2 separate regions of the Homo sapiens genome follow, and region 1 is linked to region 2. Evidence: fine-mapped expression QTL. A gene starts in region 2. The other region holds a variant in brackets. All regions are shown on one strand. Distances are between the middles of the regions. Region 1 overlaps TTC7B (tetratricopeptide repeat domain 7B). Region 2 holds the start of TTC7B (tetratricopeptide repeat domain 7B).

The links. PIP is the estimated chance that this variant, and not a neighbour inherited with it, causes the effect.
Region 1: its variant is fine-mapped to the expression of TTC7B in testis (GTEx, PIP 0.94).

What each region holds. Positions count from the first base shown.
Region 1 is chr14:90,534,342-90,537,238 of GRCh38, forward strand. It overlaps TTC7B (tetratricopeptide repeat domain 7B), which reads right to left. Exons shown (of 20, transcript NM_001010854.2): 20 at 1-2,897. Among named protein-coding and RNA genes, the nearest start is that of LINC00642, 81 kb to the left of the region's middle. RefSeq lists an enhancer at 1-195. The variant A/T (reference allele first, on the strand shown) is at 1,621.
Region 2 is chr14:90,815,482-90,818,318 of GRCh38, forward strand. TTC7B (tetratricopeptide repeat domain 7B) reads right to left here and starts at 949. Exons shown (of 20, transcript NM_001010854.2): 1 at 694-949. The coding sequence starts at 814. RefSeq lists a silencer at 943-1,122.

The DNA of each region.
Region 1 (2,897 bases), 280 kb before region 2:
GTGTGGGGTCCTCAGGCCCAGTGCGGCTGCTACTGCCCGCCTCCCCCGGAGGACTCCGGCCAGGCCTCAAAGGCTTATGGTCAAGTGTGTGGCTGCTTCTGGAGTAGGCAGGATGGACAGGGCAAGCAGACGCTAGGGGAGGGATGGGAGCAGCCACCTGGTACAGTGCCCAAGACACAGTTTACAGAACTTCAATATGAGTGGTGTCCCCTCACTGGGCAATGCCCACCCTGTCGGCCTTGAGAGGTGGTGGGGGAGGAGCAGGAATGAGAAGGTGGCGATATGGAGAGAGGGGGCCGAGTGGCAGGGGCCGAGCGCTGGGAGGGTATGGGGGCATTGGAGGGAGACAGTGGCCAGAGTGGCTGACCCTGCCCTGAAATTCCTTCAGTAGGGCCGGGTCACCCATTCCAGCCTGGAGCCGGCTGTGCTGCAGGGACCTGGGCTGGGGCTGGGGCAGCAGGTGACAGGCTGGTGACAGGCCCAGCACGGACAGGGCAGACGTGGAGAACTCCAAGGATGATGGGGAGGGTGCCTGCAAAGGGGGGACTTCCTGCAGGCAGAGAGTCTGGGCCCGCAATGATGACTGTGTGGCCGCCGGGGAGATGCGTGGGGCCATCTGGAGGAGTCTGGGTTGCTCCATGTGATCACAGACACGCCCACCTGTGCACGAGCATGCACCTCCCCCAGGCCATGACCACAGGTAGGGGGCATGGAGGATAACGGGAGGCCTTGGTTCCCTCCTTTCCCCACCGAGGGAGGTCCCCACGCAGCCCTGAGGGTGAGCAGAGCCCTGGCCACAGCCCAGGGCCCAGGACCTGGAAGGAGGCAGAGAGACAGACAGACGAGCCCATGGATCCCAAATGGGGCTGGGGATGGGAAGTGGCCTGCCCCGGCCACACCTGCCCAGGCCCCCAGCCTGGCTCTGTCCTGAGATCCTCTTGGCTGAGTGGGGCGGCTCCTTCAAAGAAGGGCCTCCTCCCTCCTCTGCCTCCTCCTTCCCTTCCTGGTCCATTCGCCACCCCACCCTGCCCGAAGTTGGCTCCCTGCTCACTGAGGAGTGGGTGCCCCGTCCCCAGGGCTCCCTGGCTTGGGGGTACCCAGGCCTCTGCCTCCCTGCTGCTGCTGCTCTGGGGAACCACCAGGCCCCCAGCCAAGGCAGCCCCCCTCAGCTTCCCTCTCTCCTTCCTCACGCCTGCCCTGCTGGAAACACAAGGTGCTCAGCGAGGCCGCCTTCAACACTCAACACGGCCCCTTCCCCACCGGACTCCTAACCTGTGTTCTCAGCTCCCCTCTGCAGCTACGCTCTTGAAAGAGACTTCACCTTTTCCTCCCCCTTGAGCCCACTCCAACCTGGCTTGACCCCACCTTAGTCAGCTTGGGCTGCCGTAAGAAAACCGCCACAGACAGGTGGCTTCAACAATGAACTTAATTTCTCACAGTCCTGGAGGTTCAAAGAACAAAGCAAAGGTTCCAGCCCATCTGGGTTCCTGTGAGGCTCCCTCCTGGCTTGCGGGTGGCCGCCTTCTCCGTGTGTCCTGGCGTGGCTGAGCGTGAGCTCACTTGCACTTTAGAGTTTCTTCTGGTGAGGACGCCAATCCTACTGGGCCAGGGCCCCTCCTG[A/T]TGACCTCACTTCACCTGAATTACTTCCTTAAGGGGCCTATCTCCAAATATAGTCACACAGGGGCGGGGGCTCCACCCTATGAATCTGGGGGAGCAAAACTGCATCCCCAGCATGGCTCTGGTCAAGGTCACTGCCAACCTGCACACCACCAGGCCCACGGTCAGCTCTCAGGCCACCCTGACGGGGTCTCCAGGCATTGAGAGAGCCCACCCACCTCCTCCAGGAAGCTCACCCTGCCTGCTCTCCGCCTCCCTTGCAGCTGCTCCTGCGCCTTCTTTCCTGATCTCTTCATTTCCCAGCCTGTAAACCCCGCCAGCCCCGGAGCTCAGCCCTGACCTCTTCCTCTTTGTCTATGCTTGTCCCGAAGTGGCCCCGTCAGGCCCATGGCTCCCAGCCCCGCATCCCTGACACCTCCCACACTCTCGCCTCATCTTGGGCTCTCGCCTGGGCTCCTGCCCAGCCAGCTGCCTCCCCCTCAGAGGCTCCACAGGCATTTTGTATTCAACCTGCCTGAAAGCAGACTCCTGCCTTCTCCTCTCCTCCCCAACCTATTCTTCCTGTTTCCTGGCCATCATCGCCATCCTTCCAGTAGCTCAGGACAAGACCCTCACCCTCATCCCTGGCGTCTCCCCTCCCTCACACCCAGCTCCATGTGTGAGCAACCCTCTTGGCTCTGTCTTCAGAATCTTCACAGTCCAGTGCCTCTCGCCACTTCCTCCACGCCCCTTGGTCTAAGCACCATGGTCGCTGTGTGACAGCAGGAGCCTGACAGCCTCCCAGCTCCCACGCTGCGGCCTGCAGAATAACGTGCTCCCCCTGCCCCTCAAAGACGTCCACATCCCGAGCCCTGGAACCTGTGACTATGTTGCCTTCCATGACAGATGGAGCGATGCAGATGTGATTGAACGAAGGCTCTCGAGGTGGGGCAATGGCCCTGGACTATCCAGGGGGCCCAGAGCAACCAGCAGAGTCCTTAGAGGGAGGCAGGAGGTCAAAGGCAGAAAGGTGACGCAGTGACGGAGCAGAGGAAGGAAAGGTGACGTGAGGTGGCCACGAGCCAAGGCCGCAGGAAGCCTCTAGCCGCTGGAGAAGACGGGGACACCCGTCCTCCTCCAGAGCCTGGGGAAGGAGCACAGCCCCACTGAAAGCTTGATTTGACTTCTGACCTCCAAAACAAAGAGAATAAATTTGTGTTAAGACGCTAAGTTTGCGGTCATTTAAAATTTTTAATTTATTTTATTTGTAGAGATAGGGTCTTGCTCTCTCATGCAGGCTG
Region 2 (2,837 bases):
CACATTCCCATCTCGCTCCACAATATTCTCCCTCCAGGTCCCCCTGACTCTATTTCTCCTCTATTCCCAACCCTGACCTCTCTAGGTCGGCAGCCTTGATGCTACTTCTCCGAACGCCAGGACGCACATCCCAGCCTGCTTTCTACCACCACCCCACACACCTCGAGTCTGCGCTTCCACCCAGAACCCCTTAAACACCATATGTTTACAAACCAGATTCCCCAGGGGTCTATGTACAACACCCCATTCTCAAGACCCCATAAACACATCCTGATTCCCTGAGCACACCATACACACACTGTGGACTTCACCCATGTCCTGAGGGACCCCCTCACCCCATCACCTCCAACTTCTTGGAAGCCCCAGGCCGGCCCCTGACCTCCTGTGGTCCCAGTGGAGCAGCGGACTCGCTGAGACCCCCGGACACCCCAGACTCCGCAGAAGCCCGCCCTGCACGCTTGAACCCCAGGCGCCGGGACAGCCCCTGGCGCCCCCCCGGGCCCCCACACCGCGTGACTCCGGGGCACCCGGGCTCCCCCAGGCCCCGGTCCCGCGCACATCCCCTGGGCCGCAGCTCCCTCGCGGCCCGGCCGCGCCCCTGCCCGCGCCCCGCGCCCGGCCGCGCCTCGGGGGCCCGTTCCCGCGGAGGCCGCGGCGCCCCCCGCAGCCCAGGCCGGCGCGCCCGGAGCGTACCGTTGGCGATGAGCTTGGCCGACAGCTGCTTGACGAGCTCAGGGATCCGCTCCCACTGGCACTCGGAGCGGCAGCGCTCGATCTCCGTCTCCAGCCGCGAGCCTGCCTTCTTGGTCGCCATCGCGGCCTGGCCGGGCCCGGCCGCCCGCCCCGCAGGCCCCACCGCCGCCGCCGCGGCGCCCCCTCGCCGCCTCCCGCCGCCGCCGCGGGCTCGGGCTCCGGCTCCCGGCTCCGCGGCGTAACGGGAGCGCCGGCTGGGGAAGGGGCGGGGAGGCGGGCGGCGGCGGCGGGCGCGGCGGGGCCCCGGGCGCCGCGAGGAGCGGCCCCTGCCGGCCAGGGCCGGAGCCGCAGCACTGACCGGGGCCGGAGCCAGGGCTGGGGCAGGGGCGGGGGCTAGGGCGGGAGACAGGGGCCCGAGGGAGGAAAGGCGGGGTGGGCATGGAGGACAGGGAGAGGGACTGGGGGTGTCTGGGGCGGGGTGAAGACCGAGGGGAAGTGGGGATGGGGGTGGGGGAGCGGGGTAGGAGAGAGATCTGACCAAGGGCGGGTGAGGGGTCTGGTGGGGTAGGGGTCTGGGCAGGATGAAGGGGAGGGAGAGGATCGGGAGGGAGCTAGCGACAGCCTGGGAGCGGGTTGGATCCCCAGGAGTAGGGCCAAGAAAGGGCAGTGACCCTGGGGAAGGTCACCGCCCGGTGGGACCAGTGAGCCAGGTGTGAGGGGTGGGGGGAGGCCTGCCCGAGTTTGTCCTGCCATCTCAGGTGGCCAGCGGTTCCCTGGGGCCCGGTTGGCCTGTGCCCCTTAGCAGATGCCCCTCTGCCCCGCAGCCTTAGCCCCTACCCAGCCAGAGGTGGACGGAGACTCCTCCATCCCAGGCAAGGCACAGCACCTGCCAGGGGTGCCCTAGATGGCTGAGCGGAGCCAGGCAGGGGCTGCCACTCTCACACGCCAGCTCTCGGACCCCCTGAGGGGAAGGCACAGTCACTGGTGGGGCCTCCTGTCTTGGCCACCTAGACTGAGACCTAGGGAGGTGTCCCTCTGTGTTCTCTCAGTGAATCAACTGTCTAGTGATCACCTACTATGTGCTGGGCGCTGCTTTAGGTGCCAGAGATAGAATTGTGAGCTAAAAAAACAAAATTCCTGGCTTGAGAGAGCTTACATTCCAGTTTGGGGGAAAAATAAGCAAAATAAAATAGTAAACTAGACTGTAAAAATGGCTATTTGAAGAAACAGGGAAGGGTTCAGTGAGGAACATAAAGAGTTGGGACAGGCGGGTGGCTCATGCCTGTAATCCCAGCTACTCAGGAGGCTGAGGCAGGATGATTGCTTGAGCCCAGAAGGTGGAGGCTGCAGTGAGCAGTGAACGCACTTCAGCCTGAGCAAGTGTTGCCATTTAAAATGGAGCAGTCAGGGATGGCCTCACGGAGGTGGCATTAGACTTGAAGAAACTAAGGGGGAGCCATGAGGATATCTCTGGGGGAGGAGTATCCCAGGCAGAGAACACCACAAGTGCGAAGGCTCTGGGGTTAGAGCACACTGGGTGGGATGGAGAAATGGCAGAGGCCAGAGGGGCTGGGTGGAGCGAAGGAGAGGGGCCGAGGCAGGAGATGAACTCTGAGAGGTTGGGGGGAGTTCTGTGTAGTGCCTGGTGGGCCATTATAAGACCTTGGCTTTTGGCTGGGCACGGTGGCTCACGCCTGTAATCCCAGCACTTTGGGAGGCCGAGGTGGGCGGATCACGAGGTCAGAAGATCGAGACCGTCCTAGCTAACATGGTGAAACCCGTCTCTACTAAAAATATTTTTAAAAATTAGCCGGGCGTGGTGGCAGGCGCCTGTAGTCCCAGCTGCTGGGGAGGCTGAGGCAGGAGAATGGTGTGAACCCGGGAGGCGGAGTTTGCAGTGAGCTGAGATGGCAGCACTGCACTCCAGCCTGGGCAACAGAGAGAGACTCCGTCTCAAAAAAAAAAAAAAAAACTTTGACTTTTACTCTGGTGACATGGAGCAGCCCTGCAGGGCTTTTCACGGAAGAGTGGCATGATCAGACCTACACTTTGGACTATCACTGTGACTGCAGTGTTGAGAATACTGCCAGGGAAATAGCTGTGGTGGTGGCAGTGTTGGATTCTGGGTCCTGCATTTGAGAGTG